Regions from separate parts of the Homo sapiens genome. Here regions 1 and 3 are each linked to region 2. The links come from fine-mapping of genetic effects on gene expression. A gene starts in region 2. Each other region holds a variant in brackets. All regions are shown on one strand. Distances are between the middles of the regions.

The links.
Region 1: its variant is fine-mapped to the expression of MIB2 in whole blood (TOPMed, PIP above 0.99).
Region 3: its variant is fine-mapped to the expression of MIB2 in whole blood (INTERVAL, PIP above 0.99).

The regions. Positions count from the first base shown.
Region 1 is chr1:1,582,673-1,592,992 of GRCh38, forward strand. No RefSeq gene overlaps it. Among named protein-coding and RNA genes, the nearest start is that of FNDC10, 12 kb to the right of the region's middle. The variant T/A (reference allele first, on the strand shown) is at 4,771.
Region 2 is chr1:1,610,527-1,620,846 of GRCh38, forward strand. MIB2 (MIB E3 ubiquitin protein ligase 2) reads left to right here and starts at 4,974. Exons shown (of 20, transcript NM_001170687.4): 1 at 4,974-5,107; 2 at 5,982-6,088. RefSeq lists an enhancer at 4,469-4,638 and silencers at 4,739-5,788, 5,819-5,908.
Region 3 is chr1:1,632,825-1,641,373 of GRCh38, forward strand. It overlaps MMP23B (matrix metallopeptidase 23B), which reads left to right. Exons shown (of 8, transcript NM_006983.2): 2 at 1-89; 3 at 157-296; 4 at 364-531; 5 at 924-1,088; 6 at 1,165-1,275; 7 at 1,378-1,504; 8 at 1,627-1,830. The coding sequence ends at 1,801. It overlaps CDK11B (cyclin dependent kinase 11B), which reads right to left. Exons shown (of 20, transcript NM_033486.3): 10 at 8,224-8,289; 11 at 7,453-7,628; 12 at 5,676-5,766; 13 at 4,938-5,059; 14 at 4,584-4,689; 15 at 4,257-4,378; 16 at 4,073-4,180; 17 at 3,858-3,974; 18 at 3,509-3,657; 19 at 3,113-3,302; 20 at 2,401-3,032. The coding sequence ends at 2,940. Among named protein-coding and RNA genes, the nearest start is that of MMP23B, 4.9 kb to the left of the region's middle. RefSeq lists an enhancer at 56-867. The variant G/T (reference allele first, on the strand shown) is at 3,454.

The sequences.
Region 1 (10,320 bases), 28 kb before region 2:
CAACACCTCTTCCCCAAGACCCTGACGGCCAGGACAGTGTCTTTTTGCCTTCAGACTAGGCAGAGTGAGGTCCCCTGAGAGAGATAAATATTGTTATTTCCCCACCCAAAGTTATTTGCATTAGGTGAAAAATGGCCACACATTCTTTGTGGTTCCTCTCATCAAGACATACGGTCTCTTTCTCATCCCTTGAATCCGGGCAAAGCCTTGTGATTTGCTCTGATCAAAAGAACTTAGTAGAACTGACGTTGTCCCAGCCCCAGTTCCAGGCCCAGAACCCAAGAAATCTTGCAGCTTCTACTCTCACTCTCCTGGAGCCCTAAGGCTGAAGCAGCCTGCTAGACAGGCCACCCCAACCAACAACCTGTCACCTGCCAGACAAGTGAGTCAGGCTGTCCTAGACCATCCAGGTGTAGCGGATGTGACAAATGACCACAGCTCCATGAGGGTCCGCAGGTGAGCCCAGTGCAGATTGCCAACCCACAGAATTGTGGACAAATACGTGACCTGTTTTTGCTGCCAAATTTTGGGATGGTCTGTTACACAGTGAAGGCTAGCTGATACGCAGTTCCTCATTTCTCCTCTGGTGATGAGATCCACTTTCATTTCAGGAGGCAGTGTGCCAGTCTCAGTAGATGGAACACAATCCACAATCGGTCTATTCAACCATGACAATTTTATTCCCTACTGTTGGGGAAGTGTCTCGAGTCAGACCCTCCCCACCAAGTGCAAAGAGAACGCATCTCAGCTATCCCTTCTGCCAGCCCAGCCTACGGGGGCCAGATGTATCTTCTGGGCTCTTAGAAGTGTCAGTCGGTGCCATGGGGACTGCTCCTACAAGTCTGGCGTGGATGCCCCCAGGTACACCCTGAGGTCCGAGAGGGTGGACTGCACAAGCTTGTCCAGGATGGCCCTTGCTGCAGCTACCGGTAGGCTGCGTGCCAATAACAGCCGCCAAAGGAGTAGAAGTAATCACCAACCTGGGTCCCTTTGATCCAGGACATCCGTGGGGCACACTGTCTGGGTCTTCCTAGGTCATGTCCACGAGGTTCTGCGTCTCGGCTGGGCCCAGCACAGATGGTGGCAGCTACGTGAGCAGCTCAGTGGCACGCCGTGCACCTGGGAATGCAGCCCGACTGGGCACTCCCGCCCTGCACACCGTTGCAGGGCCTGGGACCCGGGGCTGCCCCAGCCCACATCCACCCTGCCCGATCGATGCTCCTCCTGCACACAGCCCCGTTACCACTGCCACTGCCCCAAAGCATAAAAATTTTTTTTTTTTTTTTGAGATGGAGTTTTGCTCTTGTTGCCCAGGCTGGAGTGCAATGGCATGATCTCAGCTCACCACAACCTCTGTCTCCCGGGTTCAAGCAATTCTTCTGCTTCAGCCTCCCGAGTAGCTGGGATTACAGGCATGCGCCATTAATTTTGTATTTTTAGTAGAGATGGGGTTTCTCCATGTTGGTCAGGCTGGTCTCAGACTCCAGACCTCAGATGATCCGCCCGCCTCGGCCTCCCAAAGTGCTGGGATTACAGGCGTGAGCCACCGCGCCCGCCAATTAATTTTTTTTTTTTTTTTTTGAGACGGAGTCTCGCTGTGGCCCAGGCTGGAGTGCAGTGGCGCAATCTCAGCTTACTGCAAGCTCCATCTCCCAGGTTCACACCATTCTCCTGCCTCAGCCTCCCGAGTAACTGGGACTACAGGCACCCACCACCACACCCGGCTAATTTTTTGTATTTTTAGTAGAGACGGGATTTCACCGATTAGCCAGGATGGTCTCAGTCTCCTGACCTTGTGATCCACCCACCTCAGCCTCCCAAAGTGCCAGGATTACAGGCGTGAGCCACCGTGCCCGGCCAGTTTTGGGGTTTTTTTGTTTTTGTTTTTGTTTTTGAGACAGCGCCTTGCTGTGTCGACCAGGCTGGAGTGCAGTGGCATGATCTTGGCTCAGTGCAACCTCTGCGTCCCGGGTTCAAGCAATTTTCTTGCCTCAGCCTCCTGAGTAGTTGCAATTACAGGCGTGTGCCACCACGCCTGGCTAATTTTTTGTATTTTTAGTAGAGACGGGGTTTCACCATGTTGGCCAGGCTGGTCTCGAACTCCTGACCTCGTGATCCTCCCACTTTAGCCTCCCAAAGTGTTGGGATTACAGGCGTGAGCCACCGTGCCTGGCCACCCATCAGTTTTAAAATGTGCCTGAGTTAGAGCAGAACAGAAGCTGAGAAAAATTAAAAAGAAAGATAAATAAGTACAGTTTGCCCAAGTTGGGCCATAATATAGCCTGCTGGAGAACCAAAAAATCTGCTGTGACTTAATGTTTGAGAATCCCATTTCATTTCTTCTTATTTTCTGAAGAGCAAAGAAGCTTCCATAGATCCTATCAGGAATTGTCAAGCACATGGACCACTGTTTCAGATGGTGGCGACAGACCCAGTAACTTTCGTTGTTGTTTTGTTTTCTTTTGAAACAGAATCTCACTCTGCAGTCCAGGCTGGAGTGCAGCGGTGCAATCTTGGCTCACTGCAACCTCTGCCTTGTGAGTTCAAGCGATTCTCCTGCCTCAGCCTCTAGACTAGCTGGGATTACAGGTGCATGCCACCATGTCCAGCTAACTTTTTTTGTTTGTTTATTTGTTTGTTTGTTTGTTTTGAGACGGAGTCTTGCTCTATTGCCCAGGCTGGAGTGCAGTGGTGCAATCTCGGCTCACTGCAAGCTTCACCTCCCGGGTTCATGCCATTCTTCTGCCTCAGCCTCCCAAGTAGCTGGGACTACAAGTGCCCGCCACCACGCCTGGCTAATTTTTTTTTTGAGATGGAGTCTCGCTGTGTCGCCCAGGCTGGAGTGCAATGGCGCAATCTCAGCTCACTGCAAGCTCTGCCTCCCAGGTTCACGCCATTCTCCTGCCTCAGCCTCCCAAATAGCTGGGACTACAGGCACCCGCCACCACGCCCGGCTAATTTTTTGTATTTTTAGTAGAGACAGGGTTTCACCGTGTTAGCCAGGATGGTCTCGAACTTCTGACCTCGTGATCCACCTGCCTCGGCCTCCCAAAGTGCTGGCATTACAGGTGTGAGATACCGCGCCCAGCCAAGACTCTTTTTTTAAAAACAAACAAGCAAACAAAAATTATCTGGACATAGTAGAACCAGCCTGTGGTCCCAGCTACTGAGGAGGCTGAGGTGGGAGAATCGCTTGAGCCTGGGATGTTGAGGCTTCAGTGAGCCAACACTGTGCCACTCCACTCCAGCCTGGGCAACACAGAGAGACCATGTCTTAAATAATAATAATAATAATAATAATAATAAAATGCAATTTTAAAAAGAGGGAAGCACAGCCACAGAAGATTCTCCAAGGCAGAGCATGCGAACCACGGAAGCAGAGAGCCCATAGGGCTCGGCGAGCATGGGGCACTGGCTCCAAGAACCGCCAGTTCCTTCTTAAAGTGACCTTCCTTCAGGTCCTGTTTCAGAGCATCATTTATGTCAAACTAAATAACAGAGAGGGGTTCTCTAGCAGAAAATGATATTTATTCGAAGAGGACAGCCAGAAGAGGAAGAGGGCAGGGAGGCGACCAGGATGACCAGCTGCAGAGAGGAGTACCTTCTCCTCTGTCCTCCGCTGAGAGCTGCCCAGACAACCTGTCAGCAGAGAGGAGCTACCTCTACCCTGTCTGTGGAGAGCCTGAGACCTGCGGAGACATCCAAACGACTTCCTGTGGAGAGGAGCCGCCCTCTCCAGCCTCCTGTCTGCCAAGAGCTCAACACTCACCGGGAGGATGCTGTTCTCACATTAAATAAACTCTTCTTTTTCTTTTTTGGGACGAGGTCTCACTCTGTCACCCAGGCTGGAGTGCAGTGGCGCGATCTTGGCTCACTGCAAGCTCCGCCTCCCGGGTTCATGCCATTCTCCTGCCTCAACCTTCCAAGTAGCTGGGACCTGGGACTACAGGCGCCTGCCACCGCGCCCGGCTAATTTTTTGTATTTTTAGTAGAGACGGGGTTTCACCGTGTTAGCCAGGATGGTCTCGATTTCCTGACCTCGTGATCCGCCCGCCTCAGCCTCCCAAAGTGCTGGGATTACAGGCGTGAGCCACCACGCCCGGCCTTAAATAAACTCTTCTCCACCAAAAGTAAAAAAGTAAAATATTTATTCAGGAATAGGATTGCAATGGGAACGCGTGTGCCACAGTAAAGTATGTGCATATTCAGGGAGGTAGAAGAAGACAAAGGTTTTTTTTGGTTTTTTTGTTTGTTTTGTTTTGTTTTTTTGAGACGAAGGCTCGTTTTGTCGCTCAGGCTGGAGTGCAGTGGTGCGATCTCGGCTCACTGCAACCTCCGTCTCCCGGGTTCAAACAATTCTGCCTCAGCCTCCCGAGTAGCTGGGATTACAGGAGCCTGCCACCACACCCGGCTAATTTTTTGTATTTTAGTAAATACAGCGTTTCACCGTGTTGCCCAGGCTGGTCTCGAACTCTGGAGCTCAGGCAATCCGCCCGTCTCTGCCATCCAAAGTGTTGGGATTACAGGCGTGGGCCACTACGCCCTGCTGGTTTTTTTTTTTTTTTTTTGAGTTGAAGTCTCACAGCTCTGTCACCAGGCTGGAGTGCAGTTGCGCAAGCTTGCTCACTGCAACTGCCCCTTCTTGGTTCAAGCGATTCTCCTGCCTCAGCCTCCTGAGTAGCTGCGACTACAGGCACCGGCCACCACGCCCATCTAATTTTGGGATTTTTTTTTTTGAGACGGAGTCTCGCTCCGTCGCCCAGGCTGGAG[T/A]GCAGTGGTGTGATCTCGGCTCACTGCAAGCTCCGCCTCCCGGGTTCACGCCATTCTCCTGCCTCAGCCTCCCGAGTAGCTGGGACTACAGGCGCCCGCCACCACGCCCGGCTAATTTTTTGTATTTTTGGTAAAGATGGGGTTACACTGTGTTAGCCAGGATGGTCTCAGTCTCCTGACCTCGTGATCCGCCCGCCTCGGCCTCCCAAAGTGCTGGGATTACAGGCGTGAGCCACTGCACCAGGCCTAATTTTTGTATTTTTTAGTAGAGACGGGGTTTCACCATATTGGTCAGGCTGTTCTTGAACTCCTGACCTTGTGATCCTGCCCACCTTGGCCTCCCTACGTGCTGGGATTACAGGCGTGGGCCACCGCGCCCAGCCAAAGACAAAGGTTTTTAAAGGAAAGATGAGAAGGATGACTTCATTGTTTTGAAATAATTATCCTTGGCTGCACTTTGGGAGGCCGAGGCGGGCGGATCACGAGGTCAGGAGATCAAGACCATCCCAGCTAACACGGTGAAACCCGTCTCTACTAAAAATACAAAAAATTAGCTGGGTGTGGTGGCGGGGGCCTGTAGTCCCAGCGACTCCGGAGGCTGAGGCAGGAGAATGGCGTGAACCCGGGAGGTGGAGGTTGCAGTGAGCCGAGATTGCGCCACTGCACTCCAGCCTGGGCGACGGAGCGAGACTCCGTCTCAAAAAAAAAAAAAAAAAAGAGGCCACCTCCACATCCTCGGTTTTCCACCCCACCACCACTTAGCTCCAGGAATAATTCCTTTTTTTTTTTTTTTTAACAGAGTCTCTCCATCCTGGCTAACATGGTGAAACCCCGTCTCTACTAAAAATGCAAAAAAAAAATTAGCCTGGCGCGGTGGCAGGCGCCTGTAGTCCCAGCTACTCGGGAGGCTGAGGCAGGAGAATGGTGTGAACCCAGGAGGCAGAGCTTGCAGTGAGCCCAGATCGCGCCACTGCACTCCAGCCTGGGCAACAGAGCGAGACTCTGTCTCAAAAAAAAAGAAAAAAAAAAAGAAAGAATTATCCTTGGCTACAAAGATCAATAACAAGGATGACAACCATCTGAGGGTGGACAGGCAGTCCTGGGCGGATGTCCTCACAGAAGTATTTCTGTGTGTGTGCAAGGTTACAGTGGACTTTGTGCAAGTATGCGGTTTTTGGAATCCTTTGTGATAGTTTTGAGGCATGCAGGCCTGAGACCCCCTTTCATGGCCTTCCTTAGCTCTGTGTGTCACGGTGGCCTCCCGTTTTGCTTCGCTTCCCTTCTTCCCTTCCCTTCCCCCGTTTTTCAACCCCAGAGACTCTACTTTGACTCTGAATCAGAACTAGGTGAGCTGAGAAATGAAGGCATGAAGGATGGCAGCCGCGAAAAAGCACTCTGTGCACCGAGCTGGGGATCCCAGTGGAAGGCAAGAATTATCCCTGGAGCAGGCAGGGCGCCGTGGCTCACGTCTGTAATCCCAGCACTTTAGGAGGCAGAGGCGGGTGGATCACCAGTCAGGAGTTCAAGACCAGCCTGACCAACACGGAGAAACCCCGTCTCTACTAAAAATACAAAATTAGCTGGGTGTGGTAGACGCCTGTAATCCCAGCTACTTGGGAGACTGAGACAGGAGAATGGCGTGAACCCGGGAGCTGGAGGTTGCAGTGAGCCAAGATCACACCACTGCACTCCAGCTTGAGTGACAGAGCGAGACTGTTTTTATTTATTTATTTATTTATTTATTTATTTATTTATTTATTTTTAGACGGAGTCTCGCTTTGTTGCCCAGGCTGGAGTGCAGTGGTGCGATCTGGGCTCACTGCAAGCTCCGCCTCCCAGGTTCACACTATTCTCCTGCCTCAGCCTCCCGAGTAGCTGGGACTACAGGCGCCCGCCACCGCGCCAGGCTAATTTTTTTTTGCATTTTTAGTAGAGACGGGGTTTTACCATGTTAGCCAGGATGGAGAGACTCTGTTAAAAAAAAAAAAAAAGAGAATTATTCCTAGAGCTAAGTGGTGGTGGGGTGGAAAACCGAGGATGTGGAGGTGACCTCTTTTTTTTTTTTTCGAGACAGAGTCTCGCTCTGTCGTCCAGGCTGGAGTGCAGTGGCGCGATCTCGGCTCACTGCAAGCTCCCCCTCCCAGGTTCACCCCATTCTCCTGCCTCAGCCTCCCGAGTAGCTGGGACCACAGGGGCGCGACACCACATCCGGCTAACGTTTTGTATTTTTAGTGGAGACGGGGTTTCACCGTGTTAGCCAGCATGGGCTTGATCTCCTGACCTCATGATCCGCCTGCCTCAGCCTCCCAAAGTGCTGGGATTACAGGAGGTGGCTTTTAATAAAGCTAGGACGGGAAGGACCATGGACCCTGGTGGAAAACAGGCTCCTTCTCAGAAAGAGGTCAAGAAACTCAGACACCAGGGCGCTGGGGACCGTTTCACGGGTGCTGAAGTCGTCTACCATTGCTTTTGTGGTATTTTAGAGAAAAAGGCTGAGAACCAGGTGTTGGAAATCTTTAAGGATGCCTGGGGCTTCCTTGGGTGACAGGGATCGGGGGAGAGTTGATGCCTAAAGGAGGAGGCCGGGCTTTGTGGGGCGCGTGGCCATCTAGGCGATAAATGAGGGCATCGCCCACTCCTGCCCTACGTGTACCTGAGTATTTCACGTGCGGAGCACAGAGTCTAAAGGACCCGCACCACCTACATTAGAAATAAGAAACGTAGGCCGGGCGTGGTGGCTGATGCCTGTCATCCCAGCACTTTGGGAGGTCAAGGCGGGTGAATCACCTGAGGTCAGGAGTTCGAGACCAGCCTGGTCAACATGGTGAAACCGTGTCTCTACTAAAAATACCAAAATTAGCTGGGCGTGGTGGTGGCTGCCTGTAATCCCAGCTACTCGGGAGACTGAGGCAGGAGAATCGCTTGAACCTGGGAGGCGGAGGTTGCAGTGAGCGGAGATCGCGACACTGCACTACAGCCTGGGTGATAGAGAGAGACTCCATCTCAAAAAAAAAAAGAGTTTTGAGAACTGTGCCGTCTGACAAAGTGTGCACCGAACATAAGAGGTTATTTGTTTAAACTTAAGTTTAACGGCCAGGCACGGTGGCTCATGCCTGTAATCCCAGCACTTTGGGAGGCCCAGGCGGGCGGATCACGAGGTCAGGAGATGGAGACCATCCTGGCTAACATGGTCAAACCCCGTCTCTACTAAAAATACAAAAATTAGCCGGGCGTGGTGGTGGGCACCTGTAGTCCCAGCTACTTGGGAGGTCGAGGCAGGAGAATGGCGAGAACCTGCGAGGCGGAGCTTGCAGTGAGCAGAGATCGCACCACTGCACTCCAGCCTGGGCGACAGAGCGAGACTCCATCTCAAAAAAAAAAAAAGTTTAACTAAAATATAAAATGGAGGTCCTCAGTCACAGTAGCTGCAATTAAAGTGTCCCGTGTGGGGGGCCCTAATTAGGGGAAAGGAGTCGGGCTGGAGGGAGCAGGGGAAAGCAAAGACAGAAAGGAGATGGGCTGTAGGTCTGCCTTTCTGTATGGCCCTCCTGAACAAGTAATGCACGTAACTCACAATCTTCCTGCTCACCATCAAACGCCTCAAATTACCAAACACCCTGGCTGACAGGAGAACGCAGGTGAAGCTCCCCGCTGCCTTGGCGTTGGCCATCAACCCAGGAGCCACCCTACAAAACGTCCAGCAAGTCTTTGTCTCCATGCAGTTGGCCTCTCTTGCTGGCTGCCCGTTGCCTCCTTGCAACATGTTTTCCTACTTTCACTAACATATGTGCCTTTCTCTACCTACAACTGTCTTGGTAAATTTTTTTTTTTTTGAGACAGAGTCTCACTTGGTCACCCAGGCTGGAGTGCAATGGCGCGATCTCGGCTCACTGCAACCTCTGCCTCCCGGGTTCAAGTGATTCTCTTGCCTCAGCCTCCAGAGTAGCTGGGACTACAGGCGCACACCACCACGCCCAGCTAATTTTTGTATTTTTAGTAGAGACGGGGTTTCACCATGTTGGCCAGGCTGGTCTCCAACTCCTGACCTCAGGTGATCCGCCCGCCTTGGTCTCCCGAAGTGCTGGGATCACAGGCGTGAGCCACCGCGCCCGGCCGATGGTAAATTCTTTTACCCCCATGCTACTGGCCCAAACAGTTGTCGCTGTCCCAAGACACAGTGTCCACAGTGACTCGTAGCTACTGTGTCCTCCACAGGATATGATGAAGCCCATTAACTACGAATGTGACCTTATTTGGAAATAGGGATCTTTGTAGGCGTAATCAAATGAAATGAGGTCATGTCAAGTTAGTGCAGGCCCTCCTGCTGTCAATGGTGCTGTGCCACAGGGAAACATGCATTGCTCTTCCTCCGTTTCATGACACACAGCTCCTGAAATCCTTGGATTAGCCGGGTGGCAGGTGCCTGTAGTCCCAGCTACTTAGGAGGCTGAGGCAGGAGAATGGCGTGAACCCAGGAGGCGGAGCTTGCAGTGAGCAGAGATCGCGCCACTGCCCTCCAGCCTGGGCGACAGAGCGAGACTCCGTCTCAAAAAAAAACCAGAACTCCTTGGTGTGGGAAACCCCACACTCCTGGGACACAGAAGTGTGGACTGTTGAGTGAGAGAAGAGGAAAACAGCACTTCGTTTTTCCCAATATTACAGGTATCTTTATAAAAGAAAGGAGAGAGATCTGGACACAGTGACGGTGGAGACAGGCAGACAGATCACCCTGTGAGGACGGAGGCAGAGACTGGGCTGATGCGTCTACAACCCAAGGATCACCAAGAGAAGCTGGCCGGGCGCGGCGGCTCACGCCTGTAATCCCAACACTTTGGGAGGCCTAGGCGGGTGGATCACCTGAAGTCAGGAGTTGGAGACCAGCCTGGCCAACATGGTGAAACCCCGTCTCTACTAAAAATACAAAAATTAGCCAGCTGTGGTGGTGCATGCCTGTAATCCTAGCTACTCGGGAGGCTGAGGCAGGAGAATCACATGAACCCAGAAGGTGAAGGTTGCAGTGAGCCAAGATCACGCCATTGCACTCCAGCCTGGGTGACAGAGTGATACTCTGTCCCAAAATAAATAAATAAATAAATAAATACACGAAAATGAAACAAACAGGCCGAATGTGGTGGCTCACACCTGTAATCCCAGCACTTTAGGAGGCCGAGGCGGGCGGATCACCTGAGGTCAGGAGTTCAAGACTAGCTGGGCCAACATGGTGAAACCCCATTTCTACTAAAATACAAAAAATTAGCCAGGCGTGGTGGCGCAGGCCTGTAGTCCCAGCTACTCGGGAGGCTGAGGCAGGGGAATCACTTGAACCCGAGAGGCGGAGCTTGCAGTGAGCCGAGATGGCGCCACTGAACTCCAGCCTGGTGACAGAGCCAGACTCCATCTAAATAAAAAAAAAAAAAAAAAAACAAGAAAAGAAACAAGGCCAGGCGCAGTGGCTCACGCCTGTAATCCCAGCACTTTGGGAGGCCGAGGGGGGCGGATCACGAGGTCAGGAGATAGAGACCATCCTGGCTAAAATGGCGAAACCCCGTC
Region 2 (10,320 bases):
TAACACAAAGTCCCCGTCACCTATGCTCTTTGCTTCAAAGCAGCTTAGGTGGGCTTCTCCTTTCTGTTTTTTTAGAAGCTTCCCCTGTCCCAGCCTCTCTGGATGTGCCTGTGGTCTGCCATAGCACGCATATCCCAAACTGCAATTCCCCGTCATTCCTGGAGAAACTCTTTGGAGAGTCATCTCTCTGCTGTTGTGGCCATAGCGGGCCCATTTCCTGATGCATGGAATGTCACTGCGCCAACACCACGGGTTGCAGCAGAAAGAGAGTTTTAATCCTAAGGCTGCTGTACAAGGAGATGGCGTGAAGCAAGCAGGCTGCAGGGATCTTGTGGCCATCCGGGGGTCTCCCCATTGCTTCTGGTTCCCTCGGCCCATTTCTTTGGAATCCTGCCGACGCTGCTGTTTCATCCCTCCAGCCCACAGCTAGAATCACCCCAAAAGTGGCAGCAGGCAAGTTCCAACAAGGGACTGCCTCAAACCATCCTGAGGTGGGGCTGGTTGGTCCCAAAGAAAAGAAGCACTAAACGCCAGGGTGATCGGCCCAAAGCATTTGTTCGGGGAATTTATGTACAGAGGGAGGCAGCACATCCTCGGGCTGACAGCAAGAGATGGAGAGGTTCCACCTAGGAATGCCTGCACCCAGGGGCTAGAGTGGAGAGTTTTACAGGAGGATTTAAGAAATGTGACTCTTGTTTCCACATATTTAGCAACATGTTTGATCTCTCAGTGTTTCAGACAACAACCTAGTTCATCAGTAACTGAGAATACTCAAGGTCCTGGCCGGGCTTCAAGACTGCAGGGAAAGCATGCAGTGGGCCAGGCTCTGTGCTTCTCAGGCAGGACACAGAGAGAAAGCAGGGGCTCTGGTGAACCTTCCAGTAGAATAAGCAACTGTCCAGACATGGGCCCTCCCCAGGAAGTTACTAGGGGTCTTACTTCAGCAAAGTAAAGGAGTAAAGCCAGAAGGAGGAGGACGCAGATTCCAGGAAACAGCTGTTAACAGAAAAGCCAAACTCTGAATAAGACATTCTTTCCTCCTTCTTTTTTTTTTTTTTTTTTTTTGGAGACAGAGTTTTGCTCTCGCTGCCCAGACTGGAGTGCAACAGCGCAATCTTGGCTCACTGCAGCCTCTGCGTCCCGGATTCAAGTGATTCTCCTGCCTCAGCCTCCTGAGTAGCTGGGATTATAGGCGTGTGCCACCACGCCCAGGTAATTTTTGTGTTTTTAGTAAGAGACGGGGTTTCACCACGTTCCTCAGGCTGGTCTCGAACTCCTGACCTCCTGATCCGCCCGCCTCGGCCTCCCAAACTGCTGGGATTACAGGCGTGAGCCACCACGCCCGGGCTCTTCTTTTTTTTAAAGAGGGCTTCATTCTGTTGCCCAGGTTAGAGTGCAGTGGTGCGATCTCAGCTCACTGCAGCCTCCGTTTCCCAGGCTCAAACGATCCTCCCACCGCAGCCCCCAGAGTAGCTGGAACCATAGGCACGTGCCACCACACCCAGCTAAGTTTTGTATATTTTGTAGAGATGGGATTTCAACATGTTGCCCAGGATGGTCTCTAAATCCTGGGCTCAAGTGGTCCAATCACCTCAGCCTCCCAGAGGGCTGGGATTACAGGCATGAGCCACCATGTCCAGCTTCACAAAATACTTTCAAAAGGTTTACTTTGAGCCAATATGAATGACTGTGGGCCCCAGGAAAACACACATCCGAGAAGCCTTCAGTAAGTGGTTCTGAAGTGGTCGGTTTAGTTTGGTTTTGTACACTTTAGAAAGGCAGGAGTTATAAGCAAAGACATAAATACATACATAGAAGGTATACGTTGGTTTGGCCTAAAAAGGTGGGATATCTTGAAGTGGGGGCTTATAGGTTATAGGCGGATCCACCCGGCTGGAAACTCAGTTTTAAAAATTTCTCTGGGGTCCCCTTGGTCAAAAGGGAATCTGTTCAGTTGGTGGAGGGCTGGCTGGGTGTGGTGGCTCACATCCCAGCACTTTTGTTTTTTCTTTTTCTTTTCTTTTTTTTTTTTTGTTTTTTTTGTTTTTGAGACGGAGTCTCACTCTGTCACCCAGGCTGGAGTGCAGTGGCCAGATCTTGGCTCACTGCAACCTCTGCCTCCTGGGTTCAAGCAATTCTCCCACCTCAGCCTCCCAAGTAGCTGGGACTACAGGCGAGCACCACCAAGCCCGGCTAATTTTTGTATTTTTAGTAGAGATGGGGTTTTGCCATGTTGGCAAGGCTGGTCTCCAACTCCTGGCCACAGGTGATCCTCCCACCTTGGCCTCACAAAGTGTTGGGATTACAGGCGTGAGCCACTGTGCCTGGCTGGTTTTTTTTCTTTTTTTTTTTTTTTGAGACAGAGTCTTCCTCTGTCACCAGGCTGGCGTACGGTGGCATGATCTTGGCTCACTGTAACCTCCGATTCCTGGGTTCAAGCCATTCTCCTGGCTCAGCCTCCCAAGTAGCTGGGATTACAGGTGCCCACCACCACACCCAGCTAATTTTTGTATTTTTAGTAGAGACGGGGTTTCACCATGTTGGCCAGGCTGGTCTCGATCTTATGACCTCATGATCTGCCTGCCTTGGCCTCCCAAAGTGCTGGGATTGCAGGCATGAGCCACCGCGTCTGGCTTTTTTTTTTTTTTTTTTTGAGACGGATTCTTGCTCTGTTCCCCAGGCTGGAGTGCAGTGTCACGATCTCAGCTCACTGCAACCTCCACCTCCTGGGCTCAAGCAATTCTCCTGCCTCAGCCTCCCAAGTAGCTGGGACTACAGGCGTGCACCACCATGCCTGGCTAATATTTTTTTTTTTTGTATTTTTGTATTTTTAGTAGAGACAGGGCTTCACCATGTTGGTCAGGTTGGTCATGAACTCCTGACCTCAAGTGATCTGCCCTCCTCAGCCTCCCAAACTGCTGGGATTACAGGCGTGAAGCCATCGCACCCAGCCAATCCCAGCACTTCAGAAGGCAGAGGTGAGCAAACAGCATAGCCCAGGAGTTTGAGACCAGCCTGGGCAACATGGTGACACCCTGTCTCTACTAAAAATTTAAAAATAACCGGCATGGTGGTGCATGTCTGTGGTCCTAGCTACTCAGGAGGCTGAGGTGGGAGGATCACTTGAATCCAGGAAGCAGAGGCTGCAGTCAACCAAGATAGTGCCACTGCACTCCAGCCTGGGCAACAGAGCAAGACCCTGTCTCAAATACAAAACAAAACAAAAAACAGTTGGTAGAGAGCTTAGGATTTTATTTTTCGTTTACACAGGGAATCCAAGAAAGGAGACAGACAAAGTGAGTCTCAAGGATGAGAGCAGAGAAAAGCTCGAGATAAGAGCTGTGCAGCCGGGTCAGGAAGTGATCGGTCTAGGTCGGAACAGGAGAATCAGTTAGACACAACGGATGTGTTTGAGCCTTTGGAAAACGGTATCGTTAGGCATGTGGCGAAAACGTTGGGGTACTTGAAAAAAAGGCTGGCCATGGGTTAGTAAAAAGCTAGATATGTGAAAATATTAGGTAATTATTAACTCAAAAGAAAAAAAAAGATTGTACAGGAATTGTGGCATGGTTTTATACTGTAGCAGTGAACAGCAGGTACTCAATCATGAAGAGCTAAGCCTGATTTCATCACGACAGCTGTGAAAGTTGCAGGTACCAAAATGGAACTACTTCCACCAATCCCTAAACAAATGGAGTCGGGAGGCCACGAAGGGGGAGCTCTCATGCAGGAATACCTGCAGCAGGCCTCCTCACAAGACGCTCCTGCACGTCCTGCACGTTTGCCTGTAACCGGACTTACTGCAGGGAAATTCCTCAGGACTGCAGTATTCTAGATAAGCAGCTTGCACAAGGACGTCGGCCTGGTAAGGCTCTCTCCAACAACAAGCTAACGCCCACTCCTGCAGCAAGCGCCCACAGCCAGTGGTTTTTGTTACAAAACAACTTTTGTGAGCTCATCTGTATTTTCCCCTTCGCCCGGCCCTCTCAGATAGGCCTATGATCTGTCATGGCACGAACAGCCTAGGCTGCAACCCCCTGCGATTCCCAGATTAACTCACTTGTCCTGGAGAGCCTGCCTCTGGGTTTCCTTTCAGGTTGACAGTTTGGGAGCTAACAGGACCACGTGAGGGGTGCAGCGGGGAAGATCAGCCAGGTTCTCAGGGACCTTCTCCGGAAGTACGCAATGTCTACAATTAAGAAATGAGAGGCCGGGCGCGGTGGCTCACGCCTATAATCCCAGCACGTTGGGAGCCCTAGGAGGGCAGATCACGAGGTCAGGAGTTCGAAATCAGCCTGGCCAAAATGGTGAAACCCCGTCTTGACTAAAAATGCAAAAATTAGCTGTGCGTGGTAGCGCATGCCTGTAGTCCCAGCTGCTCGGGAGGCTGAAGCAAGAGAATAGTTTAAGCCCTGGAGGCGGAGGTTGCAATGAGCCGAGATCGCGCCATTGCACTCCAGCCTGGGCGACAGGGCGAGGCTCCGTCTCCAAAAAAAAAAAAAGAAAGAAAGAAAGAAATGAGAAACTAGCAGTGCATTGTTCAGAAACGCGGAGACTTCTCTCAGGAGAAAGCGAGAAGCAAGCGTCCAACTCTGGGGTGCAGAACCCGGGGCGGGAGGACGGGCCCGGACTGCCGTTTCTCGCTGTGTCCAGGTCTGCGTGACTCAAAACCCCGGATAGGGCCCGCACTGGTGGAGTCGGAAAGAGGTGGCTGCGGCGCGGCAAGTGCCGCCAGTGCCAGCGAGCGCGACGTCGCTCCCAAGCCCCCGTCTCTATGGCAACCGAGTGCGTCTCTAGGACCGCCACTGCGCAGGCGCCCGGAGGCTAAGCCGCTCGGAACCTAGCTGCGCCACGCAGGGTAGGCGACGCAGACGCTCCCGCGTGACGCACTTCCGGTGCTTGCCCTGCCCATCCCCGTGGCGGGGGCGTGGCCATGGCGGGGGCGCTCCGGCGGGGGCGGGCCCTGGGCTCCCGCCCTTCGGGTCCCACAGTTTCCAGCCGCCGCTCTCCTCAGTGCCCGGTGGCCCAGGAGGGCCTGGGAGCCCGAAGCCGTCCCCGAGTCGCTCCTAGGTCACTGGCGCGATGCGGGCCGTCCTCTCGGCTGATGGTGCGTGCGGGCGCGGATCTCCTCCCCTGGTCCTCCGCACCGTCCCCGAGTCGTTCTCCGCTCTGGCAGAACGCGAGCGCCGTCCGGTTCCCGCTCCCGCTGGCCCAGCAGCCCCGGGCTGGACTCGGCGTAGGGTCCGCACGGGATGGGCTGGGGCTGCGCGCGCAGCGCCGCCGCGGGGCCTCCTGGGAGTTGTGGTCCGGCCACCCGCGCGGGACTCCAGCTCCCGGCAGGCCTCGCGCGGCCCGGGGCCAGCGGCGCTGGGGTCGGCGCTGGGGTCGTCGTCCGGGCCGGGTGGGCTGCGGCGCGCGGCAGGCGCTCTGGCCTGGCCTGGCCGCCGCTGAGCAGTCGGGGCCGGTGGGTGGCCTCGAACGCCGGGACAGACCGACAGACGGACTGGCCGGCGGTCCCGCGCCCCCGAGCGGAGCGGGCGGGACGGAAACGTCCGGGCAAGTTGGGGTCGGCAGGTACTGCGCGGCCCTGGCAAGGTCTGGCAGCGGACAGGGCCGGGCGGCCTCCGCGAGCCACGGGCACGAATGACAGGGGGCGGGGCGCGCTCCGGGTGGGGGTGCCCGCCGTGCCCGCCCCTGGCCCGCCCGTTCCCCTGCGCCGGCGCCCGTGCGCGTCCCGGAGCCTCCTGACGTCTGCGAGCCGCGGCCGCCAGACCCCGGGCGCACGCAATTACGGGCCCGGCGCTGGCGGCTCCTGCGCGCTCAGACCCCAGGGAGCCCATCCGGGCAGGCGGCGGCCCTGAGTGTCGCGGCCGTGGGCCCGAGTGGACCTGGAGCCGGCGGGCAGCCCCGGGGGCAGACAGGCGACCGAGCCGCGGGTCGAGGTGCTAACTGTGCATCTTGGCATCTCCCCTCGGCCACAGGGTTGGAAGCCCAGCGAGGCTAGAGGCCAGTCCCAAAGTTTCCAGGCATCAGGGCTGCAGCCCAGGAGCCTCAAGGCGGCCCGGCGGGCGACTGGACGGCCGGACAGGTGAGCTCTTGATCGTCCGCGGCCTGATAGTTTGCACTTGGCTCTCCCACTTTGGGGCTCCGTGGAAGCCACGTCAGAGAGGCTGTGTTTGTGTCTGAGCATGCATGCGAGTGGAGGGGAGTGGTGAGTAATCCCGCGTCTCCTCTCTGAGTTCGGAACCCATGGAGGAAGAAAGCAGAGGTGCCAGACAGGCCTCTGATAGGCACCTGCAGGATTGGGGCAGAGCGGCCGCAGCGCAGGAGCGCCGGCAAGCCTGGCCCTTCCCGGGAGGCCCCCTTTGTCCGGTTCCACCCTGGCCTGTTGCCTCACATGCAACAAGTGTCTGAATGTGGCGCTCTCCTGGCCGAGGGCAGCCCTGGGCGGTGAGTGGGATGACACCCCAGCCTGCAGGGTGCCTGTAGGTCTCCACCCAGATGGGCAGGATTGGAGGTGGCCGCAGCGCTCGTGGGCTTTCCCTCAGCAGGTGTCTCCATGCTGGCCTCCCCGCCTCAGGGCTTCATCCCACTCCGTGGGCCTGATCTCCCTGGGGCACCTGGGATGTCCATCTGCGTTAGCTGGAGCTACTCCATGGCCTGTGGCGTGCCACACACAGCGGCATTTCGGTGTCATTAGGCACAGCTGGAGGTGCAAGGAGGAGGGCAGCCTCATGTCCAGTTCCATGTAACTTGCTTCTTCTGAATAAAGGCAATTTGCTAACTTTCTCGCTAAATAGGATTTGGTTTCTATGGCTTTTAAAGCTTCTCCGATAAAATACTTGCAATAAGGGAACTCTCTCCTCCTACACTCTCCTGACTGATGGTTCGGAAGTCCTCCTGCCCTCTGAGAGCTTGCAGTTTCTTGTGAAAAAGAGAAACTAAGCAGCAATAGAACAGACCCGGTGTCTGCTTGCGTGGTTAAGACGGTAAATGCTAAATGTGTGACACTGCCTTTAGAAACCATTTTCTCCAGCCTGGCTTGCTGGCTGCCCGTCTGGTTTGCTGTGTTGTGTCTCCAGTGGCTTTAGCTTCCAACAGGAAAGCCTGGTAGCCGAGCGAATCTGTGACCCAGGAAGTAGCAATTAAATGCCTGGGACGCTGCCTCGAGGCTGGTGTGTGCTCTGAGGTAAGTTCCGATTTGCCAAAGCACATCTGTCGATCTGTCGCCCGAGTCTTCACACCCTGACTGCCTCCATCATTTTAAACATCGGGAGCAGTTGCCTGCAGCGGGGTTCAGATGCCAGCCAGGGGCACAGCCTGTGAACTGTGGGTAGATGGCAAAGTCTAGCATTTCTGGCAAAGGAAAAAACATTTGGTAACTCTCTGAGTAAATTTCTGACTGAGATGAAGATACCCATTGTGGGGCAGCATCCTGAAGCGGAAGCCTGGGCTGTATGTTTCCAAGAGGAGGAGCAGGAGTGGCCACAGCCATGTACGCCACGATGTACACCAGGGGCTGCGTGGCCACAGCTCTGGTCTGCTGGTCTGCTCCCTGGAGCCCCTCCACCAGTGCTGGGCTGTGGCTGTGGCTGTCTCTGGTTTGTCTTTCTGGGAAACCTTGGCCAGGTTGGTGTGAGGGCAGGGCTAGCCTTGGACATCTGCACTTCCCATAGCAGCCTCTGGCCCAGAGCTCACCCGCTGTGGGCAGGTGATCAGGGTGATCAGGTCCCACGGGTCCCCTCCTCTGCACCTGGAGCCTTGTGGGTGTAGAACAGAAAAATAGGAGGGGGCAACCCAGAGGCCTCCTGCTCTCCAGGAAGGAATGGATGCTGGACAGGTCCAGGGTGGAGGCAGAGGGAGTGAGGGGCCCTTGGGGGAACATCTGTCCTAGAGGGCTTGATTTCCAGGCTGCCCACCCCACTCCTACCCCTAATCTGGTGTTCCTCACCTGCCTCCAGGAAGTCCTCACCTGAGGTCTGCAGCGGGTGTGCCAAGCGCCAGCCCCACATCACCTGCTCCCAGGCCTGCCCAGGGGATGGGTCCTGTGGCCAGTACCCTCGGGGTCAGCTTGACCCAGACCCAGCCCAGAACCTGTCCCATGGCCCCAGGAGGACAGGATGGTCAGGGAAGCCCAAGGGATGAGCCCTTTTGTCCACAAGCTTCCCTCTGACATGGGCAGGCTGCTTGTGCGACCCCACAGCCCCCACCTCTCATGAACAATGGGAATGGGGCAGGCCCCTCGATGCTGGGCTGGATCCTCCCGCCCCTAAGCAGGTGCACTCTGTCCCCTTTGAGAAGAGACCAAGGGATACAAGTGCTGGGTCCTGGCGGGGTGCCCCTCCTCCCTGCCTGTGGGGGTCTCATTACTGCCTCCTGCCCCCACCACAAACACCCCCTAGAGAGGCCTTCGGAGGCAGGTACTGAGCCCTGGGGCCAGGGTGCCAGGAGCCCAGTGGCAGGTCTTGGGTGACTGCTGGCCCTGGGGCAATGGTGAGAAAGCCAGGCAGGCAGCTGCAGGAAGGAGCTGAGGAGAAAGGCGGCAGAGCCTCAAAAGCTGCTGGCGGCCGGGCACAGTGGCTCACACCTGGAATCCCAGCACTTTGGGAGGCCGAGGCGGGCGGATCACGAGGTCAGGAGATCGAGACCATCCTGGCTAACACGGTGAAACCCCCGTCTCTACTAAAAAATAGAAAAAATGAGCCAGGTGTGGTGGCAGACGCCTGTAGTCCCAGCTACTCGGGAGGCTGAGGTAGGAGAATGGCGTGAACTTGGGAGGCGGAGCTTGCAGTGAGCTGAGATTGCGCCACTGCGCTCCAGCCTGGGCGACAGAGCGAGATTACGTCTCAAAAAAACCAAAACTGCTGGCCCCTCCAGAGGGTCCAGGATACTGAGCTCCTGAGCCTGGGATCCACGCGCATGTGGTCTGTCTGCACACTGGCACCGCAGAAGGGTTGGCAGGCGGGCAGGCATGGCTGGAGACCCCGCTCAGATGAGGCGGCCACTCCAGGGCAGTGCCATGCTGGACAGAAGGGACTGCCTTGGAAGTGGGACAGACCCCAGACCCTTGGGGTGGGGGCCCTGCAGGGGAGGCCTTGAGGAGGCGCCGGGTCTACAGGCCCCTGTGTGCTCACATCCCAGCCCCCGGGGAGAGGTGGGAGTGGGTGGGCGCACCCAGCTCCCCTGTCCAGGCTCGTCCCCCTTGTTGGGGCAGCCCTCAGCAAGTGGGGGGCTGGTTCCAGGCACAAGAAGTGAGGCCAGGGAGGAAGCCCTGCCTGTGTTCAGCCCAGTTGTGCCCCAACTCAGGTGGGCTTCCATGAGGGACAGCCTCTGGGAGGGTGGGGGTTTGTGGGCCAGGGCTGGAGAGCTGCCTGGCTGTGCTAAAAATACCGGGCATGCTGCAGACAGGTGCCAGTCTGGGGCACAGGCTACCCTGTCTCAGGCTGATGGCCTTGGCACTCCACCCCACTGCCCCTGTGACGCGGGGGCCGCCAAGGCTTGGTCTTGATTCCCAGAGGCCCTGCTGGTGACCTCCCCGACATCTCTGCCCTCTGCCCATCCCCCCAAGGGCAAGATTTGCCAAAGCACAGGACACATTGGCTCACACATGGGGCACCCTGCCCCTGTCTTTTTGGAAAGGTCCAATGGCATATGGCCAGCGGGTCGGGCAGGTGTGGCCGCTGGCCTGGGCTAAGCTGGCTGTGGCTGAGAGTCTGGGCGCAGAGACAGAAGGCGCCCCCTGCTGCAGAAGGATCACAGTGTGGGCTCATGGCATTGGCTTTTTTGCGGTCCCAAGTCCTTCATCTCCATTGCCGGGCCCATCTCGGGGGTCGGCAGATGCGTGTCCCCTACTAGCAAAGACCTCCAGTCGGTTCTGCGGCTGCCTGTGATGAGCCCTGCTCTGGCTAAGTGGAGGTGTTTGGCAGGGAGGAGTCCCCGGCTTAGTGTGATTCCAGCTGTGGCCGATTCTGGTGGGATCCTGGCAAGGAGGAGGTTGCGTGTGGATCTGGTGGAGGTGGACGGCCTGGCAGGGGGTGGGGTCTGCAACCCTAAGGAGCAGTGCCCCTCTCACTTGTCCCCCCGCCAGCAGACTGCTGCGTCGGCCTCCCCGGCCTGTGCCATTCTGTGGCGAAGGTCCCTGTGTAGAGGAGGCTGGAGTGGGGGAGCTCAGCCCAGGCCATGCCTCACCCTTCTTGGGTGCTCCATGGGCAAAAGCTGAGGTCAGTTTGTGGATCCTGGGAGCAGGAACCCTGCAGAGCCTGCCCCCCAGCTGGTGGCAGAGCAGGCAGTGGGGAGCTGCTGGGGCAGGAGGGAGTGACC
Region 3 (8,549 bases), 21 kb after region 2:
CGGGTCCCGGGCCCACTGGCCCCCCGCAGACGCCGCTACACGCTGACTCCAGCCAGGCTGCGCTGGGACCACTTCAACCTCACCTACAGGTGCGCCCTGGCTGGGCCCCGGGGGAGGGGGCGCGGCCGGCGCCCGCTGAGCTCACTCTCCCTGCAGGATCCTCTCCTTCCCGCGGAACCTGCTGAGCCCGCGGGAGACGCGGCGGGCCCTAGCTGCCGCCTTCCGCATGTGGAGCGACGTGTCCCCCTTCAGCTTCCGCGAGGTGGCCCCCGAGCAGCCCAGCGACCTCCGGATAGGTGGGCGCCCGCCCCCGCCCCGGCCCGGCCCTGCGCGCCCGGCCTCTCAGCCCCGTGCTCCCCCCAGGCTTCTACCCGATCAACCACACGGACTGCCTGGTCTCCGCGCTGCACCACTGCTTCGACGGCCCCACGGGGGAGCTGGCCCACGCCTTCTTCCCCCCGCACGGCGGCATCCACTTCGACGACAGCGAGTACTGGGTCCTGGGCCCCACGCGCTACAGCTGGAAGAAAGGTGACCGTCCAGGCTGGCCTCCTGGAGGCCTCTCCTCTGCAGCACAGTGGGCTGCCGCGGTCGGGCTTTGGGGCAGACGGCAGGAGGGACCTTCCGGGGTGGTGGCTGCCACTGGAGTCTAGCAGGCAAGGAGGGGAGCCCGTGGGAGCCCCCATCCCGGCAGCCCTGAACTCCCTTTCCCATCCCCCTGCGCCTCTGGAGCGGGAGCTGGAGCTGCATTCCTGGGGGCCGAGCTCACCGCCTGGGCCCAGAACATTCTTATCTTTCCGTGGCTGCGGCCGAGGGCGGCTCCGCGGCTGCGCTCCAGCAGATACACCGGGCCTCGGGGAGCTGGCCCACGGGCGGCGGGGCTGGGCCCGGGGCTCCCAGGCGCTGACCCCCGGGGCCCGCAGGCGTGTGGCTCACGGACCTGGTGCACGTGGCGGCCCACGAGATCGGCCACGCGCTGGGCCTGATGCACTCACAACACGGCCGGGCGCTCATGCACCTGAACGCCACGCTGCGCGGCTGGAAGGCGTTGTCCCAGGACGAGCTGTGGGGGCTGCACCGGCTCTACGGTGAGTCCCTTTGTCGGGCGGGAGGGCGGGGACCGGGCGGTCCTGAGCCAGGCCGTGCTCCCCACGCTCCCGATAGGATGCCTCGACAGGCTGTTCGTGTGCGCGTCCTGGGCGCGGAGGGGCTTCTGCGACGCTCGCCGGCGGCTCATGAAGAGGCTCTGCCCCAGCAGCTGCGACTTCTGCTACGGTGATGCCCACGGGGCCGGGACAGGGCTGCGTGGGAGCTGGGCCTTGGCCATGGTCGGGGCTGAGGGGGCACTGACGGGGCTCTTTCCCCCACCCGGAGCAGAATTCCCCTTCCCCACGGTGGCCACCACCCCACCGCCCCCCAGGACCAAAACCAGGCTGGTGCCCGAGGGCAGGAACGTGACCTTCCGCTGCGGCCAGAAGATCCTCCACAAGAAAGGGAAAGTGTAGTGAGTGAGCGCCCCGGGCGGTCCTCGGGGTGGGCAGCCCGCGGGCGGCCTTGGGGCAGGGGTGCGGGGCAGGCAGCCGGGGGGGGGGCTGTGCCTGCAGGAGACGCCCCGCCCCCCTGCAGCTGGTACAAGGACCAGGAGCCCCTGGAGTTCTCCTACCCCGGCTACCTGGCCCTGGGCGAGGCGCACCTGAGCATCATCGCCAACGCCGTCAATGAGGGCACCTACACCTGCGTGGTGCGCCGCCAGCAGCGCGTGCTGACCACCTACTCCTGGCGAGTCCGTGTGCGGGGCTGAGCCCGGCTGATAAAGCACTTTCTCTCTGATGGCTCCTCGCTCATTCTTGGGAGGGCAGCGGGCAGCCAGTCTGGGCAGGTGGACACCCCAGCCCCTGGTCCACCGAGAGCTGGGCGTCCTCGGGGCTGGGCACCCCTGCTTCCCCGCACAGCGGACAACAGGTACAGCACAGGACGGGACGGGCTTTGCTAAGGTGGCCCCTGGGAAAGTGGGATAAGCGGAGGCCCCAGTGACAGGGGCAGCACGTGGAGCAGCACCTGGGGTAGCCCCAGAAGCCTGGGTTCTGTCTAGGACTTGCTCAGAGCTGGGGGAGGGAGGCAAAGGGGGCTTCCTGAAAGATGTGGCTGGGATGGGCCTCCAGGATCTTCTGCAAGGAGATGTGGGTGGGGGCTGGGAGGACTGGCACAGGGTGGGGGACCACCTTGCCAGAGTGGAGGCCCCCCAGGAGGTAGGAGCTCCCCTCCTGCCTGGGGAAGACACTGGCCCACATGGGGTCAGAGGCCACAGCCGCCCACCCCACCCTCTTCCCCTAGAGCCCGGTGGTCTGCGACTCCCCTCCCACACATGGTCCCGGGTCACTCAAAGGACGACACGGGGAGCTTTCCTCGAAGAATATTTTAATACATTTTAAAACTCAACAACCTTGTATAAAAACCTGTCGAGTCTGCTGGCACAGCTGGGGCTGGGGGTTGGGGGCCGGGGGCCTGTGTGGACAGGGCTGGTCTGGACGAGTGGGTTGGGGCAAGAGGGCATCGCTCATCCCAACACAGAAACAGGTCTCCAGCTCCGAAGATTAAACAATCCACCCGGCTCCCACCAGTTCCTTTCCAAATCACGGCCCAGCCAGCCCCGTGCGTGTCGAGAGTGGGAGAGGGTGTGTGGAGGTTTGTGCTGCCCCACGTGGGCACCCGAAGATGTCCACCCTCTCCGCCCTGGGCAAGTCACGGAGAAAACACAGCTCTTTCCTCCACAACAAGGAAAATGATTTAATTCTACAAATTTACAAACCAAAATACAAAAACAAAACATGGAGCACAAAGTAAGACGAGGAGTTCCGAGTCTCATCGCAGCTCCAGCCGCAGTAGCCACGCCTGTGGTCCCGGCTGAGTTCTCCCCATGACGGGGTCCACTCTGACCTTCAGAACTTGAGGCTGAAGCCGGGGCCCGCGGCAGAGGCCCCCTGGTTCGTGGTGGTAAGGTGGAAGCCCGTCTCCTTCAGGTCGTCGTCACCCTGGGACGAGTCGGCTACCGTGAGAACCCTGCCCAAGCCAGCCCCACCTGTGGGCACGCCCCACCCGCCAGGCCCCTCACCAGCTGGCTGTAGCCCAGGCCTCCCTCAGGGGGCCTCGGGCTGGTGCCCCGCTTCACACGCTGCTGCTCGCTCTTGGCGGGCCACGTGGGGAACATGGAGGGGTCGATGGGGAGGGGGGTCTCGCGGAAATACTCATGCTTGAGGCCGTCCTCAGCGCTGATCCTCCTCCCGGGGAAGTAGGTCAGGAACCTGGGGGGAGAGGGCCAGAGGCCCAGGAGGTGCTCGTGTGCTCCACTGGGTCCCCCAAAGATGGGCTGTGTTGGGACGGGGCTCAGGGCATGGGACGCCAGGCACCAGAGCAGTTCTGGAACGTGGTGAGCCAGCAGGTAGGCCTGGGACT[G/T]GGAAGTCACCGCTATGGCTCGGGACCTCCCGCCACCCGGCTGCACTGGGCTCACTTGTTCATGAGGTCGAAGCCCTGGTCTGAGAGCAGAGCCCCGAAGCGCTTGCGGAGGTTGTTGTAGGGGTGCTCGCTGAAGGTCATCTTCTTGACTGCTGGGAGCTCGCTGTAGCCGGGCCAGATTTTCTCACTAGGGGTCCCCAGATCCTGAAAGACAGAGGTGCTTCAACAGCCACACCAAGTGGCCCACAGTGTTGGCACCTGTGTCCCGTCAGAGAAGACAAGCCACCAGGAGGGCTCTCAGTGGCCCTGGTCCCCATCTCAACCCAGCACCTGTGCGCCCCGCAGCCCCATTCCTGCAACTCCTCCACAACCCCACAGCGCACCTGCAGCAGGGCCAGACCCACCTTGAACACCTTGTTGATCTGATCGATTTCTGACTTCCCGGGGAACAGAGGCTTCTGAGTCAGCAGCTCCCCGAAGATGCAACCCACTGACCACATGTCCACGGCCGTGGAGTATTCCTAAGAGGTCAGGAGAGGTGTTCAGGAGGGCCAGTGCCCGCGAAGCTGTGGGAGGCTGCGTGGGGGACAGGGGAGGCACTCAGACGCCCAGGACTCACCTTGGCACCAAGCAGCAGCTCTGGGGCGCGGTACCACAGGGTCACCACGACCGGGGTGTAGGCCTTCAGAGGGGATCCGTACTCCCGCGCCAGCCCGAAGTCACCCACCTGCAACGACAGATGGGCGGCTGTGAGTGGGCCCCGGCAGGTCTCCCTGGGATGGGCCACTCGGAGGGGGGCTCACCTTGAGGATGCCGGCGTGGCTCAGCAGCAGGTTGGACGTCTTGAGGTCACGGTGCAGGATCCAGTTGTCGTGCAGGTGTTTCACCCCACGCAGCAGCTGGATCATCAGGGTCTTCACCTCCCCTGGGAGGGAGGGAAGCTCCCATGTGGACCTGGCTGCCCCCAGCCCAGGGCACTCAGGGTGGCCCACTCGCCTCGGCAGCAACAGAGGCTTCTCAGGGCTTTCCCTGTGGATGCAGCTGGCCCTCCCTGCAGCACTGTCACCGCGGGGGTGACCAGGACCCTGCCCCCACTTGTACGCAGACAGGCCCCTGGGGCGCGGCTGTACCTGGCAGGAAGGGCTGTTTCATGGTCTCCATCAGGCTCTTGAGGTCGTGCTCCACATAGTTCATCACGATGTAGATCTTGTCCATGTTGCTGCCCACCACAATCTCCTGCAGGGCACGGCTCTGTGGGTGCTGGGCACCTCCAGGCCCCCACCCACCCCTGCACCCGGGTGCAGCTGCTGAGGGACAGTAAGGACCTCCGGTGCCACCCGGGAGGCAAATGCTTGCTTCTGTGTGGTCTGTGAAGGGCTCCACTAAGTGCAGGAGAGTGTAGGAAGCACCCGGCCCCAGGACAGCACGGGGCCCTGTCAGAAAAGCCTTCCACCCGGGGCCAGGCGTGGTGGGGCCATGCTCACTCTAACGGTGACGATGTTGGGATGCTGGGCCTTGAGGATGGTGTTGATCTCCCTCAGCGACGTGATCGGGAAGCCCTCCTTCTCCTTCTCCATCTTCAGCCGCTTTAGAGCCACAATTTCATCTGTGAAGAAAATACAGACGGCACTGAGAGGCATTCTCAAAGTCACGGTACCAACAGTGGACTCGTTCAGTGAGGACCGCAGGCAGTGCCCAAAGCGCCAGCATTTCACGGAGGGGGGTCTCGTTCTAGGTGGGGGCACGTGGGCACCAGGAGAACGCCCCAGCTGAGGTCTGGGCAACACCCACGGCTTCCCACTCAACACACCACAGACACTCACAGCCACCTACAGCCACCTGGGATCCCAGCGGCCACGCCGACTCCACATCGACTTCCCCAACAGAGCCGGCCTCACCTGGGATCCCAGTGGCCGACTCCCAACAGAGTTCCCGGCTCACACACCTGCTTGGGTGGGACGCTGGGAACGCAAACCTGCACACCAGCCCCGGCACAGACCACTCCACGCGCTGGGCCTCGGCCCTGTGGGGCAGGCCGCCTGCTACTGCAAGGGAGTGGCAAAGCCCCAGGGCCAGGCTGACCTCTGGCTTCTAGAGGTGCTGAGGGGTCCAACCTCCAGTAGCTGCTCAGGTGAGGCGGGCCCAGGTGCAGTCGCAGCTCTCGGGCAGCCAGCCCCTGCCCCACTTCCCCTGCCTTTGTGGGGTGAGGGGACCCCACCCACCTGTTTTCTTGTCTTTTGCTCTGTAGACCACTCCATAGGTGCCCTCCTCGATCCTGTTCAGGCACTGGAACTCCTCGACGCTCCGGCAGCCCTGGGAAGGAAGCGCCTGTGTGAGGTCTCAGTGGCCATGCCAGCTGGAGGGAGGGCGGCTGCGTCCACAGGCACGGCACACCCGGCACGGGGCAGGTGCAGGGCAGAGCCTTGGGACTGGGCCGGGGGTGGAGCCGGGAGCAGCTCAGTTCTTTCAAAGTCTCTTTCCTTGCAAAACCATCTGACACTTTATTATGAAACAAAACCAGTGTGAACAAAAGGCCATCCCAGCCAGGTGCAAGGGCTCAGGCCTGTAATTCCAGCACTTTGGGAGGGCAAGGCAGGAGGACTGCTTGAGCCCAGGAGTTCAAGACCAGCCCGGCCAACATAGCAACACTCTGTTTTCTATTTTTTTTTTTTTTTTTTTTTGAGACGGAGTCTCGCTCTGTCACCCAGGCTGGAGTGCAATGGTGAGATCTCGGCTCACTGCAACCTCCACCTCCTGGGTTCAGGCGATTCTCCTGCCTCAGCCTCCCTAGTAGCTGGGAGTATAGGTACGCACCACCACGCCAGGCTAATTTTTGTATTTTTAGTAGAGACAGGATTTCACCATATTGGCCAGGCTGGTCTCGAACTCCTGACCTCTGATCCGCCCACCGCCTCGGCCTCCAAAAGTGCTGGGATTACAGGTGTGAGCCACTGTGCCCGGTCAAAACTCCTTTCTACAAAATAAAAAAATTAGCCAGGCATGGTGGCTTGCGCCTGTAGTTCCAGCTACTCAGGAGGCTGAAATGGGAGGATTGTTTGAGCCTGGGAGGGGGAGGCTCCAGTGAGCTATGATTAAGCCACTCCACTCCGGCCTGGGTGACAGAGACAGACCCAGTCTCCAAAAAAAAAGCCATCCCAAGAGTCTCTTTGTCAAACTGGATGTGTCCCCTGCTTGTACCAGGATGACACTGAGGACGGGCCCTACCTGCCAGGCGCAGCATGATGCCCCATGCCAGGGCACCTACCCCTCCGTGTACCTTGGGGCCGGTGCCCAGGCCGGATGTCATGTACTCGGGGTGGCCTGTGGCCCGACGCCTACGCTCAGCAGCACTAAGGGGCAGAGGCGCTCACAAGGCATAGGGCAGTCGACAGAGGCCTGCTGCATGCGCCAGAGAGAACCTCTCCGCCCACAGGCACCAAGGAGGGGGCCGAGTCCCTGCCGGTCTCCCAGGCCCCAGAGGCCACTGGCACCTTCTCAGGCTTGTCCCTTCCAAATCGCTCCCAACAATATCCTGCCTTATTGATAGCTGCCTAAGCAAAAGGCTTCTGGTCACACATCTACACTGACTCCCGTAGCCGCTCCCCCATCCAAGCCCTGCACAGATGCCGGTAACAAGGCCTTGGTGCCTACATAACCCGCCCACGCAGGGGTCAAGTGGAAGGCACTGCTCTCCAGTGCGGAGGAGGACGCAACTCGGGCAGCAGTGACAGCAGCGCGGCCGCACGCCCAGGCTGCCTTTCAAGCCGCAGAGCAGTCCTGCGGGCAGCTCCCTGTCCACCCAGTTCCGTCCAGCATGAGAAAGAGGCGGGACCTAGAAGCATGAGGGGCCAGTGGCTGTGCCCGCCCGTCACTGCCCCAGTGGGCCCAGCAGCCCTGTGAGGCGACAGACGCCAACACGGGGGCCAGGCTTCGCTCAGCCCCTGTGGTAACTCCGACTGCCAATGCGGACAGTGGCCCGGGGCGAGGGGAGGGCCTGACCTGCAGGGCCGGCAGGTACTTGGGCAGCTCCTGCTTGAGCTCGATGGGCGACAGGGCAGGGGAGTCGGGCACATAGTCGCCCTCTGTCAGGGCGCTGCTCTGCGGCGTTCCCTCACCCACTTCTTCCTCTGCTTCTTCACTCTCCCCGGAATCTCGGTCGAACCGTGACTCTGGAACTGGAAAAGTTGAACCTAATTACGAAGCTAGGAGTAAGCAAGGATCATGAACCTCCTCCTGCCCCGGGGGCATCAAGCGCGTGGCAGGGCTGCCCCGTGTCCCGCTGGGAGGTGCTGGCGCTGGGCTCTCGTCCCCTGGACACAGGGCACCGAGGCCTAAGAGTGCTGGCAGGCTCGGCTGAGACAGAGCCCGGATGCTGAGCTGGGAGGAGGCGTCGGGTGTCATGTGGGGGACAAGCCCACATCCACGTCCACCAGGCTGAGGACATAACCTCACTGCCTGTCGGAGGCTGGGCCAGGCCTCTGCTCTGCAGGGACAGGCCCGGAGCCACCATCTGACGGGCCTCCCCTGTGGGGAACTGGTCCTGGGCTTCCCAGCTCCTCGGCCCTGCTGGGCACTCAGGACGCCCTTGGTCAGCACTGTGCCTCGCTGAGGAATGCGGGCCCCACCGGCACAGCCTGGAGCGGCCAACGAATCAGGCGGCCTCCCAGACCCTGGCGTGCCCCACGCTGCGCAGGACCGGCTGTCTTAGGAGAGGGCTGCTGCACTCGGAGACAGACAAGGAGGGGGCTCTGTCTCCAGGGAGGTTCTTACCAACCAAGAGGTGGTTTTCATTTTCTCGTTCTTCATCTTCACTCATTTCTTCCTCACTTACTTCTTCTGCAAGAGAAAGGAGGCGTCTGCTCAGACCAGCACCGGGGCGAGTGCTGCCACAGGCAGGATGCGGGCTCCGCTTCAGCTAAGCAACAAGTGTTCCCAAGAATGGATATGCAGGCCGGGCGCGGTGGCTCACGCCTGTAATCCCAGCGCTTTGGGAGGCCAAGGCGGGTGGATCACCTGAGGTCAGGAGTTCGAGACCATCCTGGCCAACGTGGTGAAACCCCGTCTCGACTAAAAATAAAAAAATTATCCGGGCGTGC